4 linked regions of the Homo sapiens genome follow. The protein of the gene in region 4 purifies or fractionates together with the protein of the main gene of each other region. This does not show direct contact. Each region holds a gene or a part of one and is shown on either strand. Other genes may lie near its edges.

The links. Proteins that work in one complex are often made in the same cells at the same time.
Region 1: the proteins of ITGA5 (region 4) and FGFR2 purify together in Homo sapiens (affinity purification with western blotting; one study listed by BioGRID). This does not show direct contact.
Region 2: the proteins of ITGA5 (region 4) and TVP23B fractionate together in Homo sapiens (co-fractionation; one large-scale study listed by BioGRID). This does not show direct contact.
Region 3: the proteins of ITGA5 (region 4) and LOXL2 purify together in Homo sapiens (affinity purification with western blotting, with the first as the bait; one study listed by BioGRID). This does not show direct contact.

Annotation. Positions count from the first base shown.
Region 1 is NC_000010.11:121,483,367-121,487,274, forward strand, and holds part of FGFR2 (fibroblast growth factor receptor 2 isoform 1 precursor), read right to left. Parts: intron 2,167-3,908; coding exon 2,029-2,166; intron 438-2,028; coding exon 332-437; intron 1-331. UniProt on the Homo sapiens protein: Tyrosine-protein kinase that acts as a cell-surface receptor for fibroblast growth factors and plays an essential role in the regulation of cell proliferation, differentiation, migration and apoptosis, and in the regulation of embryonic development.
Region 2 is NC_000017.11:18,790,853-18,794,760, forward strand, and holds part of TVP23B (Golgi apparatus membrane protein TVP23 homolog B), read left to right. Parts: intron 1-43; coding exon 44-188; intron 189-3,908.
Region 3 is NC_000008.11:23,366,043-23,369,950, reverse strand, and holds part of LOXL2 (lysyl oxidase homolog 2 precursor), read left to right. Parts: intron 1-1,516; 5' UTR 1,517-1,599; coding exon 1,600-1,954; intron 1,955-3,825; exon of another isoform or gene 3,826-3,908. UniProt on the Homo sapiens protein: Mediates the post-translational oxidative deamination of lysine residues on target proteins leading to the formation of deaminated lysine (allysine).
Region 4 is NC_000012.12:54,398,644-54,402,551, forward strand, and holds part of ITGA5 (integrin alpha-5 precursor), read right to left. Parts: intron 3,688-3,908; coding exon 3,537-3,687; intron 3,451-3,536; coding exon 3,358-3,450; intron 3,213-3,357; coding exon 3,133-3,212; intron 3,023-3,132; coding exon 2,942-3,022; intron 2,836-2,941; coding exon 2,730-2,835; intron 2,353-2,729; coding exon 2,203-2,352; intron 1,305-2,202; coding exon 1,221-1,304; intron 1,116-1,220; coding exon 1,002-1,115; intron 56-1,001; coding exon 1-55.

The DNA.
Region 1 (3,908 bases), on a different chromosome or scaffold from region 4:
TTTTCCCATGCACACCAAAATGCAAGTGAATACTGCTTCCCCTTTCCCACTCTCCCACATACCCCGGACTGCTCCACCAGCAGCTACACTGAAGGCAGCCTCGGGGATGTCCCTCTGTCTTTGGTTTCATGAGTCAGAACTCACAAAATGAAGTTCTGAGAAAAATCATGATTTGAGAGGAACCCATAGTTGAACTATCTGACCCTATGGAAAAAGAATAAACAAGACCACAGACTCCAACCAACAGCCAACAGGGGAGTGTGTGTGTAAAACACTACGCATGTCTCACAAGACAACCAAGGACAAGGGGCTTCTAGAAGGAAGTTCTTACCTCATTGGTTGTGAGAGTGAGAATTCGATCCAAGTCTTCTACCAACTGCTTGAACGTTGGTCTCTGGGAGGGCACTGCATGCCAACAGTCCCTCATCATCATGTACCTGGGAAAAATGGATTTCCTTGAATTAATTTCATATGCACTGGGTACGTGGTTATAGTCAGTTTTAATAGGCAATATGGGGACGTGGTGTAAATTAGGAAAATGCATCAGAACCTTCCAAGCAACTAGATTAGGGGGTCATGAATCACTTTCCCAAAAGCTTCCCTGCCAGTTCCTCCGAAAGGCACTTTGACTTACAAAAACATGTTAGAAAGGCATCGAAGCCATCAAGAAAGACACAGCTATGTGTTTTCCCTGGTAACCCTGGGCCACAGTGACATCTCACAATGGCGTCACACCCTAAAGATGCTTTGGAGGCTGAAGGAAAATGCGTATTTCCATGGGCTGGTCTCCAGTCTTCCCTCCCCTGACACCCTGCCCAGCACCAAAGCAGCTCCACTATTTATCTGCCCGGTGCTTTGGGTCTTAATGATTCTAGTTGACACAGCTTCCTGAGTTAAAAAAAAATTAAATAAAATTTGAAAACTACAACTTCAAGTTTTTGATGAATTAATCTGCCACCACTGGGCTGCACACTAACTTCCTGATTAACTCTTAGATAGGCTTAGCTTCCCAGGTCTTATCTTGATTTTGGGTTTCGACAGATCCTCTACGTTACAAAAGAAAAAAAACAATAGGAATGACAAAGAGCACAATAAATGCCTTTATATAATATGCTATAAAATGTGGCCATTCATCAGACATCCACGGTACACCGAAAAGCACTCACGGGATTACTGATATAAAATCCCCATGAAATGATACACAATAGACCGCAGTTTCTGGGACAATCACTCTTCTTAGTTAATCCTGGAGGGGTTGAGGCAGGAGGCAGAGAGACTCCTTTCAAAGCACTGATTCTATTGCACCAGGCACACGTCACAAACACAACATAACTCCACTTAAAGTGTGAGGCAGGTTTTGCTACAAACCAGTTCATGGTTTTACAGGCAGATCTGGTACAGTAAGGAGGGCGCCTGGACACATGTTTAATTCTCTGCACTAAAACACAAGTGAGACCTAGGTAACCAAACACGAGTTCCTTCGCTCTGAGGAAATGTGGTTGGCGTCAATCTGTAATGGCAATTTTCAATGGTTCGAGAAGTTCTGGAAACACCGATTCTCTACTGGCCACGATGGGGCCAGGCGGGGGCCAGGCACAACCACCAGGGAAAGGCTGTGTTGGTTCCTTAATCCTACACCCTGCAGGGCGGCCCCGCGGCTTTCTAGCTTGTTTCCTGACCCGTGGGTCTTCCTGTCACTCCACGGGAGACCGCAGAAGGTGCAGCACAGTGGCCCAGGAAGACCACTCCTGCTGGCTCTGCAAAGTCAGGAGCCCTCAGCCAGGCAGCCAGACACCCTCTGATCCAAAGCCCTCTCCATACTCAGAATAATGTTCTTTCTCTCAGACAAGTAATGGTTGTCGGTGTCGCTATGTATCCCAGCTCTGGATTGAGCCCAGAGAGCTTCAGCCATTCTTCTTAGAGCATGTTTAGGAAACCAGGGGCCTTCAAAAACGAGATACATCAGGAGAGGTATTACTGGTGTGGCAAGTCCACTGGGGCACCGGCAGGAAAGACAACAGCCCTTACAGTTCGTTGGTGCAGTTGGCTGGCTTATCCATTCTGTGTCCTTCCTTCAGCAGCTTAAAAAGTTCCTCCACGGGAATCCCTGGGTAGGGCGAGCCCCCTAAAGTGAAGATCTCCCACATTAACACCCCGAAGGACCAGCTGCAACAAAAGGAGAAAGCACGGCATTACTAACCCATCCACGTTGCCAAAACCTAAACACGCCCAGCTGAGACATAAACACCTCCTCACTTCTGAAGTTCAAAGACAAATGGGCCCTCCTGCAGTTCCTCCTATGTGCTCTTTCCTGCCCTGCAAGAGCATCCCCGAATGATGATGACACGGGGATGTGCTGATGGAATTTTCCATCAATAGACAAAAAGGCAAACTGCCATCACTCTGGAATAGAGCTGCTTGTCTTAAATGTGGTGTTAGCAATGCAAGGATCTCAGTTTCTCAGTTTCAAAGCCTTTACGCTCCTTTCCAACTCCTTATGTGCCTGACCCAAGGGTTGTGATCTACCAGGATGGGCAGTTGACAGAATAAGGCCAGCAAGCCAACTCCGCAGGATCACAGCTGCCCTGTGTGGCTGGCGGAACATCTGCTGCACAGAGGCTCTGGAACTTACTAAGATCGCAAAGGCAATCAGCACTGGGCTGGGGTTAGGATGAGGAATCACATGCCCCAGATGAGTTGCACACAACAAAACTGAACACATCTCACAGGCCATAATTTATTTACACTTGACTCTTCAGAGATTTGGACTTCCTGTGCCAAGTTCAGGAGGCTCAATCTCTGGGAGGAGCAAGCTGAGAGAGCCAGGTTTAGCTACATCATGGTCGTTCTGGAAACTCAACCTTCTGTACTCGATGGTGGTGTTTCACTCCGCAGTTTTCTACAGAGCAAAAGCAGCAGCACAGGACAGGCAGAACAGCCTCTGTGCCTCAGTTGCTCACAGCAAAAATGGGATAGTCATGTCTTTTTTTTAGGATTGTTGAGAGGACCAACTATGGTAGCACAGAATTAATGCCTACCCAGAACTCCTCCTGCTCATACAAATAAAAAATAGTTCAAGTGATTTTTTTTTCCCCAGACAGAGTCTCGCTCTGTTGCCAGGCTGGAGTGCAGTGGCACAATCTCAGCTCACTGCAACCTCTGACTCCCAGGTTCAAGCGATTCTCCTGCCTCAGCCTCCCAAGTAGTGGAGATTACAGACACGCATAACTACGCCCAGCTAATTTTTGTAGTTTTAGTAGAGACGGGGTTTCACCATGTTGGCCAGGATGGCCTTGATCTCCTGACCTCGTGATCCACCCGCCTTGCCCTCCCAAAGTGCTGGGATTGATTACAGGTATGAGTCACTGCACACAGCCTTCAACTGAATTTTCAAATCTAAAATATCAGTTGGAGCCTGACCCCACTGGTTTTGTCAGTATATCATAATAGAAATATTCTACTGTGTTTCTAGAATGCTATCAAGGATGCCAAAGCAAGATCAGACCTTTTTGTTGAGGGATAAACATAGAGAGTAGACCCTGTGGAGGTCCCCAGCCTGGACCACATCTCACTCAGCTCCACTCTTTAAGGACAAATCTGGGTTAGAGGGAAATATGACAAACTACTCGTAAGTGGGAAAAGCTCCAGGATTACTCCTTTAATGGAGTGAAGAACATGCCAAGAGCTTGGCGAATTAGATAACCGCTTTGTAGTTGCACATCCATGAATATGTTCAAGGGAAGGACTTCCGCTCTGGCAGGGGGAGGTCAGCAGTTCCACCTTCTGTGCTCTTTGAAGCCAGGCAGATTAGTAACAGAGCATTGGTTATCAGCCTACCATAAAATCTGTCCTTTCTAAGGCCAGCTCCTGCACCTTCTACGAATGTGTGAAATGCAGCAGCCACTAAA
Region 2 (3,908 bases), on a different chromosome or scaffold from region 4:
GTAAAATGTAATTGCATTTCTTTCATTGTGTTTTGGTTTTCAGACATCCAGTAGCATCGTTTTTCCACTTATTCTTTCGAGTCAGTGCAATCATCGTCTATCTTCTCTGTGGGTTGCTCAGCAGCAGCTTTATTACCTGTATGGTGACAATTATCTTGTTGTTGTCGTGTGACTTTTGGGCAGTGAAGGTAATTTTGATTGTTTTTATTTTAAAATTATATTTAATATGAAAATGATGTATAAAAATATGAGTTAGCATTTTGCATTATTGTTAATCTTTTGTTACTTCAAACCTCATCTGTGTTGAAGTGCTAGATATATCAAATTGCATGTAGTTTTTTTTTTTTTTTTTTTTTTTTTCATTTTTTCCCTTTGACAATACAAGATGAGACATGCAGGTTACTGTGCTGCTGATTTTTCTGTGCCATATTCTAACCTACATCAGCTTTAAAGTCAAATAAACAAACAAAAGTGACTAGCAACCATAGACCCTACAATGTTGCTTCTAATCCATACCATGGGTTTTGCTTCAGGCTTACCTGTAGGTGTGTTGTATATAATTTCTAGATAAGGCCCCAGTGTAGTTTGTCCACAAATACCTAAAAAATACCTACCTTTTGAAAAGGCTCCTATGGATGCTTTAAGGCAGTGTTTCTCAACCAGAGACAAGCTTGCCACCCACTGAATATTTGTCAGTGTCCAAAAATGTTTTTGGTTGTCATGACTGGAGGTGGGAGGAGTGTGCTATTGACATCTAGTGGCTAGAGGGCAGGTATGCTGCTAAATATCCTAACACACAGGACGGCCCCTCTGCAACAAAGAACTACCTGACCCAAAATGTCAGTTGTGCCAAGGTTGAGACACCCTGCTGTAGGGGATAGAAAGAAGTGTAAGAAATGGTTTCAAACTCAAGAACAATGATTAGAGAGATGGATGGATGGATAGATAGGTACATAATAAATAGATAAGTAAGCATAATAAAATATTAAATATGGACTCTAGATGATAGATATTTGGGTATTCACTGTAAAATTTAACTGTGTGTGTTCGAAAATATAGTAAAATAGTGGAGAAAAAAATCAAAGGCTGATTTTGGAGTTTCAGAGACACATACTGATTCAAAGACTAGTAAGATGTTACAACCCTATTCACACCCACCAATGTAGCCATTTTTAGATCTTTTAATTCTTTTTTTTTTGAGACGGAGTTTCACTTTTGTTGCCCAGGCTGGAGTGCAATGGCATGATCTTGGCTCACCGCAACCTCTGCCTCCTGGGTTCAGGTGATTCTCCTGCCTCAGACTCCCGAGTAGCTGGGATTACAGGCATGCACCACCACGCCTGGCTAATTTTTTTGTATTTTTAGTACAGACGGGGTTTCTCCATGTTGGTCAGGCTGGTCTCGAACTTCTGACCTCAAGGGATCTGCCCACCTCAGCCTCCCAAAGTGCTGGGATTACAGGCGTGAGCCACTGCGCCTGGCCATCTTTTAATTCTTAAAGATACCTGAAGTGGTTGGCTTGGTGATGGCCAGTTTCCATAGGCCGCATAATGCTGAGAAGGAAGATTTCAAAGGTCTGTTTTCTTTAGGTTTTTCTGTTGTCCAGTCTTCTTTGGCTTGCATTTCTTTGAATTTCTTCTGTTACTTTATGCTCCAAAGTATTTAGTACATACTGCTCACAGTTTTGATACACGTTTCTTTTTGTTGTTCATAAAATTTCTGTTCAGCCAAATAGAACATGCTTTCCAGTCAGTTCTTCCTGGTAATTTCCAAACTCTTAAAATTTTTCTGGGTTTAGAGTTTTAAAAAATGCGATCAAAATAGTTTATTTTCTGATAAGGTTTATTTGTTTATTTTTGTTTTTAAACAAGGGCTTAAAAAATGGCACCCTTTTATCCTTGGCAAAACTACTTATAGATAGCAAAGCAATGGAGATATAAAGCAAAATTAAGAAGTCAAGAATAGGGAAATTATTAAGTGGACTTGGGATAAGCAGGGTTCTGAAACAGTTAAAATAGAGATGTGTCGTAATTGTTATAAATCTCAATGTACTTACTAAAAAAACAAAAAATCAATCTTCATCTAAACCCCTAGGTGTCCAATCTTTTGGTTTCCCTGGGCCACAGTGGAAGAAAGAATTATCTTGGGCCACACATAAAATACACTAACATTAGCTGATGAGCTTAAAAAAAAAATCGCACACAAAAAAATCTCATAATGTTTTAAGAAAGTTTACAAATTTCTCCTGGGCCGCATTCAAAGCTGTCCTGGGCAGCATGAGGCCTGTGGGCAGAGGGTTGGATAGGCTTGCCCTAGGTGATGTTAATGAAGATAAAGAAGAGGTAGAGAAGGGAAAATAATTTAAAGGTATGCTTAAATGCTAAAGCTTATATTGGTTTTTATTTTATTCTTCACTCTGACAAATTGAGTAAAAAAGGTTAAATAATGGTTTTAAAAATTTAATGGCAACTATGGCTGGGCGCGGTGGCTCACACCTATAATCCCAGCACTTTGGGAGGCTGAGGCGGGTGGATCATGAGGTCAGGAGATCGAGACCATCCTGGCTAACATGGTGAAACCCCATCTCTGCTAAAAAAAAAAAAAAAAAAAAAATGAGCCGGGCGTGGTGGCAGGTGCCTGTAGTCCCAGCTATTCAGGAGGCTGAGGCAGGAGGCGGAGCTTGCAGTGAGCCGAGATTGCGCCACTGCACTCTAGCCTGGGCAACAGAGCAAGACTCCATCTCAAAAAAAAAAAAAAAAATAATGGCAACTATTAGTAAAATTTAAAACCAGTCGTGTATCTTCTGCAACATTGGAGAAGATGGAGCAAGTAAAACAGTTCATAGAGCAAAAGAAGGAAAACAAAGCAACTGTCAAGGAAGCTTAAATCAGAAAGTACATGTATAAAGTGATGTAAGTAATAGCAAATTCATTATAATAGGAAATGTAATTTGATTAAACTACCCATTTAAAGACAAGAATACTAAGATTGGTCAGAAATCAAAGTCCAAACAAAAGATCTAACAACATTAATGACATTAGAAAAAATAAAAGAAGGCAAAGATAACATCAGATCAACTCAAACAAAAAGAAACTTGGCATTGTATTATTATCAGATGAGATATGGATCAGAGTAAGAAAGCACTAAGAGGAACAGAAAAAGGTGATTTTATGAATCACAGTGAAGATCATTCACAGAGTAAAATTATATCAAACTATGTATAGTAAAAAAATTGGAAATATTAGAAAATAGAAAAGCATTATGATGAGTTTAACAAACTACTATCTTTAACAAACCAAAGTGCCAAAAAATAAATAAGTTCTGAAGGATCTGAATGAAATAATTGGCAACATCAATTTGATAGCAGTATTTGGGACTTTGTATGACAGAATACTTTCTTGTTAAATGCCTGTGGGGCATTTACAAAAATTGACTAAATATCACTGTGAAGAAAATCAAAATAAAATTGCCCAAAGCACCTACATTTTCTACTCCAATGAAACAGAACTAGAAATTAATAGAAAGTAGTTGTCGAAATTGGAATTCTTTTTAAAAAGCGAACTACTACATATCTTGGGTTTAAAAGGAAGCAAAAACTGTAAATATAGGTTATTTATACCTTAATGGTGATCATTTACAGTTAAACTTTCTGAATATGTCAAAAACTGAATTCAGAGGGAAAATAATAGACTAAAGCCTTTTATTTTAGACAAGAAAGAGGGAAAATAATGGACTACTTGAGTCCAGAAATTTCAAAAACAAGCAATAAGCGTGAGAAATCAGGAAAATAAACTAATAAAGATAAAAGCAGGAAATAAAGAGTTAGAAAATGGGAACACAGAAGAGTTTGAAAGTATTCTGAGAGCATTCTTTGAAAATACCTATAGAAGAGACCTCTGGTTTAGGTC
Region 3 (3,908 bases), on a different chromosome or scaffold from region 4:
TAATAATACCTGCCTCTTCTACTCCCCAAGGTTCTTGTGAGGCATAGGTAAGCTTGAGGATGCAGATGTGCTTTGATGGGAATGATGAGTGGCCAGGACCCTGATTCCCTTCAGAGCCACACTACTAGGGGGTCAGGCTGTGCGTTGGTCCGTTGGTCAGGAGCTATCACAGGAACCCTCCATCACTTTCTGGCCTTGTTTGTTAGTCACAGGATGAGCATGGCTGGCTCTCCGGTGACATCAGAAAGCTTTCCAAAATCCTCAGTTCTGACTGTCCCCCAGGCTCTAACATCTCCACCCCAGCATCCTCTTCGGGGCACTGAGCACTGCTGGTCACCCAACAGACATGGAACTGCCTCACTCCAAGGCAGATCATCCCTCCATGGGCAGCTCTGGACAGCTCTGACTACAGGAAAGTTAGCCAGTCCTTCCTCAAAGGTAGTGTGCCATGACCAGAAGAATATGATTAGCCTACTCCTCTGCATAGGGTTAAAATAAAATACCTTATGCCCCCACCTAAGCTTCCACCTGCTCATCCTGGTTTGGGGCCCTGCATGTTTCTCCACAAGACACACGTGTGCTCCTTTTAAAATCGTCTCCTCTTTTCTCTGAATTACGGGAGGACCAAGATACACGAGGTCTCTTGCTACATGATTTCACTCGGGAATTCTTAGAGGTAGGCTCCACCAGATACGATGACCAGGACCTTGAGGATTTTAAAACTCATTTAGCATTGCAGCCCTCAAAGCTGACGGGAAAATTATAATTCATCTAGCAAATGTTCCTGTAGTGTTTTGGGGTGCCATTCATTTAATGGAGGGTGGGTGTGTTGAACATCCTGCCCTCACCCCTTCAGACCCGCTCCTTCTCCACCGGCCCCCATGTTCCAGGAGGCTGTCCCACACGGGCTCCCTCAATGGGCTCAGCTCCCTTGCCAGTGGCTTCGAGTTGAAGGGGGCTGGGTTTGCCTAATAGGAGGCACCAGAATGATTCAAAGACGGGAGGAAAGGGAGTCAGGTATTTATTCTCCCTCCCATGTCCCCGCCGTTGCCATGGGTTGGCTCTGAGACCCTCCAGTGAGGGCCACAGCTCCTAAGAGACAGCTCCCTCTGCCAGTCTCCAGTTCTCACCCCCGCAGGCTCCCTTCAAGCCTAGGGTGGTCACAGCCCCCTCTGAGTCGCCAGCCCTAGGGTGTGACACCGGCCTTTGTTAGTTCTGCAGAACTCTGCCGGCATGTCCGTAGTCTTAAAAAACTCTCCTTAAATTAAGTTGGAGTGTGTTCTGTTCCCTGCCAGGAACTCTACTGGAAAAAGCATTCTAGAGAGATGACAAGGCAGTAGGTAAAGGAGGTGGGACCTCCCAGCCCTGCATGGTGGAAATGTAGGAGTGGGGCTGGATTGGCGTCGAGAATGGACGAGCTTTCCATATTAAGCCAAGGGGTATGAAATCGCTGGTTCTCTATGTAGGTCTCCGTAGCCCCACGTTCCCATCCTAACGCATCTCTCCTCTCTTCCAGAAAGCTCCTGCTGCTTCTGTACCCCGCCTGTCCCTCCCAGCTGCGCAGGGCCCCTTCGTGGGATCATCAGCCCGAAGACAGGGATGGAGAGGCCTCTGTGCTCCCACCTCTGCAGCTGCCTGGCTATGCTGGCCCTCCTGTCCCCCCTGAGCCTGGCACAGTATGACAGCTGGCCCCATTACCCCGAGTACTTCCAGCAACCGGCTCCTGAGTATCACCAGCCCCAGGCCCCCGCCAACGTGGCCAAGATTCAGCTGCGCCTGGCTGGGCAGAAGAGGAAGCACAGCGAGGGCCGGGTGGAGGTGTACTATGATGGCCAGTGGGGCACCGTGTGCGATGACGACTTCTCCATCCACGCTGCCCACGTCGTCTGCCGGGAGCTGGGCTACGTGGAGGCCAAGTCCTGGACTGCCAGCTCCTCCTACGGCAAGGGAGAAGGTAAACGCTCTGTGCTTTGGATCTGAGTGCTGTCACCTGGCAAGGCCCGGAGTGGCCTTCCCTGAGGTCAGCCTGGGAGAGGAGGCTGCACGCACTGCGAAGTGTAAATTCTTGGTGATGCCCATCCAGGGACTGGCATCCTTCTGTGCCCACTCAGGCTGCACCCTGCAGGAAGGCGGGGTCGGGGGGCTTGAGGAGGGGCACAGTAAGTGACCAACCATACTGATTTGCCCAAGACTTTCCTGGCTTTAGCACAGAAAGTCTCACATCCTGGGAAAACCTCAGGAAAACCAGGACAGTTGGTGACCCCAGGTAGGGGGTGAAATCGGCCTGTGCTCCTCTCTCCGCCCCATATGCCCTGCCTGGGGGCTGCGTCAGCCCAGAGGAAGTTGCGCTTTACTCCAAATCGTTCCCTGTTAGGAAAGCCTCTTGCTCTTCCTCACAATGGCTCCCACATGCTGGAGCTCCCTGACGCCCCCCACCTTCCTGGCATGTGGAGTTCATCGTTTTCACACTAACCTGCTATTGTGGGCTTGGTCACAATAGGCACACAGATGCTTTGGGTTTTTCACCGTTGGTTAGCCTATTCTTTCCTCCCTTGTGAGGTTCAAATTTATTAGTTTATTTTTAAAAATTGTTTTAAGAGCTGGCCAGGCGCAGTGGCTCATACCTGTAATCCCAGCACTTTGGGAGACGGAGGCGGGATGATCACTTGAGGTCAGGAGTTCGAGACCAGCCTGGCCAACATGGGGAAACCCCATCTCTACTAAAAATACAAAAATTAGCCGGGCATGGTGGCGAGTGTCTGTAGTCCCAGCTACTCAGGAGGCTAAGGCACAAAAATCGCTTGAACCCGGGAGGCGGAGGCTGCAGTGAGCCGTGATCGCGCCACTGCACTCCAGCCTGGGTGACAGAGCGAGACTCCATCTCAAAAAAACAAAAAACAAAACAAAAACCCAAAAAATTGCTTTAACAGCTTTGAGGCAGGACAAAGTTTGAAGCCCTGAACCTAGAGCTCAGTCTGTACTGACCTCTGACACCACACTTTGTAGGAAGACGCATGTCCTCTCCAGCCTCATTTTCCCCATCTGGAAGTTGGGCTAAGAACCCCTGAAACCCTGACAGTGTATGTTCCCAAATAGGAAAGAGATAAGGGTGGAGGGAATTGTTTCTTTTTAAACATTTTTCCAGGAGCTAAGAGTTTCCTATCTCTGGGTCAGCCAGGCAAAGGAAGCTCCCACACCCTCCCGCCCGGCTGAGCTGCAGCCCAGACCTCAGCACAAGTCTGGCTACTGGACTAAAGCAGAGCTGCCTATACTCCTGTCCTGGACTAAAGGGCTAATGCCATGCTGACTGCGTAAGAATCGCCCAAGGGAGCTTAAAAGTACAGAATAGCGCAGACCTCAACCCACCATAATCTAGTTTAAAAGGTCTGGGCTGGAGCCCAGGACTCTGTCTCTTTTGGAAGTCTGCAAAGTGACAGGTTTGGGAGTCATTGAAATTGATAACTGTTATCCTCCCTTCCAACTTTTCTGTTATTCTAGAAATTATAGGAGAAAGGAAGTCCCATCTCATACACATCTCACCTCCATGCAATTGAAAATTTCCTTTTGGGGTAACTGGATCAGGAGACAGCACAGAGTCAAATGTTCTCTGCAGCTTGCTCTGGGCGATGAGAGCCACAGCAGTGAAGTTAGCAAATGCTGGGCTTTAGAACCCACTTCCTGTCTTCTTTAAACAAACGTCCGATACTTCCACATCTCTGTTTATCCGGCTGGCTGAGCGATCCAGGGGTAACCTCAGATTCATGTTTTCCATTCCAGGCTTTCCAACGCTCATTATTTTATAACAAATGCTTTCCAGTGACTGGGTATTTTTCCAGTGACAACTTAATTTTATTTCAACCTCAATTTAAAACACCTGTTGTCAGACAAGGGGGTTGTGGTTTTTCCCT
Region 4 (3,908 bases):
TCTTCAGGGCTTTGTACACAGCCTCACACTGCAGGCTAAATGGCTGGTGCTCCCGCTGTGGGTAGGGGAAAGTTGGTTAGCACATCCTCTCTTGGGATCCAGAGGACATAGGGTTCCCCATCGTCTGGCTGGGGTTGTGATCTTTCCCTATTTTGGGCTCATTCTTCCTGAGTCTCTCTCTCTCTCTCTCTCTTTTTTTTTTTTTTTTTTTTTTGAGACTAGGTCTCACTCTGTCCCCCAGGCTGGAGTGCAGTGGTGTGGGCTTAGGTCACTGCAACCTCCACCTCCTGGGCTCAAGCAATCCTCCTGCCTCAGCCTCCCAAGTAGCTGAGACTACAGGCATGTGCCATCATGCCCAGCTAATTTTTGTTTTGTTTTGTTTTTGTAGAAGTGGAGTTTTGCCATGTTGCCCAGGCTGGTCTCAAACTTCTGGGCTCAAGGGATCCGCCAACCTTGGCCTCCCAAAGTGCTGGGATTACTGGTGTGAGCCACTGTGCCTGGCCCGTGAGCTTCTCTTGATGTTCCTTATATGAGATAATAAATGTGTAACTGAATAATTGTAACTTGATAATATATAATTAGATGACTACGTGTTCAATAAAAATTTTTTTAAAATTATTAATGTGCTTTGACACCAGGACAGTGCCTAGCCTGCAGTGTGTGCTCAAGAAGTGACTGCTCTTTACTATTCCTACATGTGTTTACCTCTCCACTATGGATTCATCTTCCATCTTACTGTTTTTCTATCATTCTTTGCACACTGGTCTCCCTCCAGCCCTCCCTCCTCTGAATGGGCCAGGAAAGGGAAGCTGCTGCTCCCACTGTGGCCACTAGATGGCGCCAAGGACATACAGCCTGGTCTAGACAAGGGCAAGGAAGGGGAGCTGGAGTGCTGGGTCCCATTCACCAAAGGAGAGGTGGCTACTGCAGTGGAGAAAGGGGTGGGTCAGTCTAAGCAGGCCCAAAGGTCAGGGGTCAGGGCTGAGGTAAGGCTCCCTCACCTGCAAGAAAGTCTTGGCCCAGACTCGGAAATGCAACTGCAGACTTTGGCTCTCTTGTTGGTGCAGGGGCCCGAGCTCACAGCGCAGCCTGAAACACTCAGCCTCCGGGCATTTCTAGGAAGAAAGAAGCTTGAACCTGGTGTTCTGCCCTTGTGATGGCCCTGAGAACCCCAGAGTACTCAACACTTTGGTCCACACCTCATTCCCTGCCTGACTTACCAGGATCTGAGGTCCCGAGGAAGCAGAGCTGCGGCTTGGAGCTTCCCGTTTTTGCTGGTGGTGCAGGGAACCCTCGGGATCCAACTATAAAAGAAAGTGTTGGGCCCCTTTCCCATCTCATTACAGCTTCTAAGTCAGCTTGCACCTGGGTTCCAGAGCAGCTTCAACCTATTCTTTCATCTATCTCTTTATTGATTCATCCAACTGTCCACCTCCTATGCGCAAGGCACTGAGCTCAGGGTTAAAATATGGAAATGAGGAAAACTTGGTTCTTGGAGATCACACTGGAGGAGATGCTTAAGTAAATAATTAGGTCTGTGTTCCTGTTTTTGCACTGGATGTTCCCTTGGTTTGGAATGCTCATCCCTGAGTCTTATAGACAGGTTCAACCTTATCTTTCAGGCCTCAGTTCAGCTGTGACGTCTTCAAGAGGTTTTTCTATGATCCAATTTAAATAGTGTCCCTACAGCTTATTAACTCTTCACTTCATCACCTTTCAATCCCTGTTAATTTTTCTCCTTCTCTTTTTCTTTTCTATGTCTATCACCCTTCACTAGAATGTAAGTTCCATGAACGTGGAGACCTTGTCAGTTCTGTTTGGTGCAATATTTCCTGGGCCTAACAGTGTTCAGTACAGTCACTTATTTAATTAGATGTTAATGAGTAAATGAACTATAAAACAGGCATTCGGGCCCAGAGGAAAAGGTTTGAAGAAGGCTTCCTAGAGGAGGTGGCACATAACTGGGCCCTAGGGGTATGCCGGGAAACAAAGAAGGGATAGTTCAGGCAGAAAGAAACACAGTGGATGAAAGTCCTTTTTCCTCCAGAGGATTTTGAGGTAACTTTGGGCCTTGTGACCCTCAACCCTAGCTATAGGCACATCCTCATTGCCTCTTGCAGGCCCCCAGCAACCTTCCCCAACCCCTCAGCCTTGGTCCTCTGAATCTGCTCCTCTTCCCCATGCCAGTGTTCAGGATCTCACCTCCAGGCCCTTTGGGTTAATGGGGTGATTGGTGGTGCAGTTGAGTCCCGTAACTCTGGTCACATATAGGAGCTGCTGACCTTCCAGAGCCTGGGGACAGCTGAGTTCCAGCACACCCTGGCTAATGGAGCTGGGGCCTTGGTTGATGAGCTGAGGAGGGAAGAGCACAATCATCATGAGAAGGAAGGGAATGCTTCTGCCCCATTGAGACCCTGGATCACCATGGCTCCACTATACCCTGCTGTCAGGCTCCTATCTCAGAGATGAAGCAGGGAAGCAATGGGCAGAGGTGAAATCCTCTCTAGCCAACACTTTTGGAGGGGGCTCCATCTTTCTTTCCAAGCCACTCAATTGGCCTGTCTCTCCTCTGGCTGTTTCTCACAGGACTCTGCCTCATGCCTTTGCATATCACTTACTCCTCCCTCCTCTCTTTCTCTCAGTCCCTCACATGGGTTCCAGCCATCTGTCACTCATATTAGCTCCTCCTTTCCCATCATTCATTCTGGCCCTGCCCCTTCCCCCCTTACCTCATAGACATGGTGGACAGCAGGTCCCAGGTCCTCCTCCTTCTGAGGCTGGTCTCGGGGATGCCAGTCGCTTACTGGGAATAGCACTGCCTCAGGCTTGGAGACACTAAGGAGGAGGGTGGTTTAGAGGAGGGTGGAAGGAACCCCATATGCATCCTTCCCTAGAAGTCTGTGTCCCCTCTCAGAAAGACCCCATTTTGCCTGGCACTGACCCGTTCAGGGTGACCTGGGCCTGAGCCTCCACGGAGAGCCGAAAGGAAACCACGTCGCTTTGCGAGTTGTTGAGATTCTTGCTGTGGGATGGAGGCAAGACTGAGGTGCTGGAGTGCAGCCAGTGAGAATGGCGCCCAGCCCTCCCTTCCGTCCCCAGCTCAGCCCCAGCCTAGACACACTCACTCCCTACCTGAGGATCTGGAAGTCAAACTGGATGGTTTTCTTAGTGTCCCGGAGATGAGGGACTGTAAACCGAAGGCCACCCCACAGCTGGGGACAGAAAAAGAGGAAAAGAGGGCAGTTAGACTGTGTATTTCACCCTCCCTCCGCACCTCACAGCTGTGCTCTCGGCTGGCTGGTTACCGCCCTCAGGTCTGCTCTCCCTCTGTCCCATCCTCTTTCATCCCAAACTTACACTGGCTCCTGCCTTCATGGGGTTGCCCAGGTCACACACCAGCAGGCGGCTCTGGTTCACGGCAAAGTAGTCACAGCTCAGGCTGGAGAAGTTCTGGAGATGGGGTGGGCACTGGTCAGGTTTTGGTGTCCCCTCTAGAGGGGTATCCTCCCAAATCCCACTCGAGAGTCTCATCTCACCCCTGGGTGTCTGACGAGTCCTGAGTACTCAGCCTCTGGAGGGGCGGTGACCCGAAGCTCAGCCTCATAGGCGCCACCCTCACCCACATTCTGGGCATGGAAAGTGAGGTTCAGGGCATTCTTGTCACCCAGGTACACATGGTTCTGCTCCCTGGAAGGGACACAGAGGGTAAGGGACATTGGTGAATTAATCCTCAAACCAGGACAAAGGACCATTATAAGAGTAGTAATACGAGGCCGGGTGTGGTGGCTCACACCTGTAATCCCAGCACTTTGGGAGGCTGAGGCGGGTGGATCACGAGGTCAGGAGTTCAAGACAAGCCTGGCCAAGATGATGAAACCCTGTCTCTACTAAAAATAATAATAAAAAAA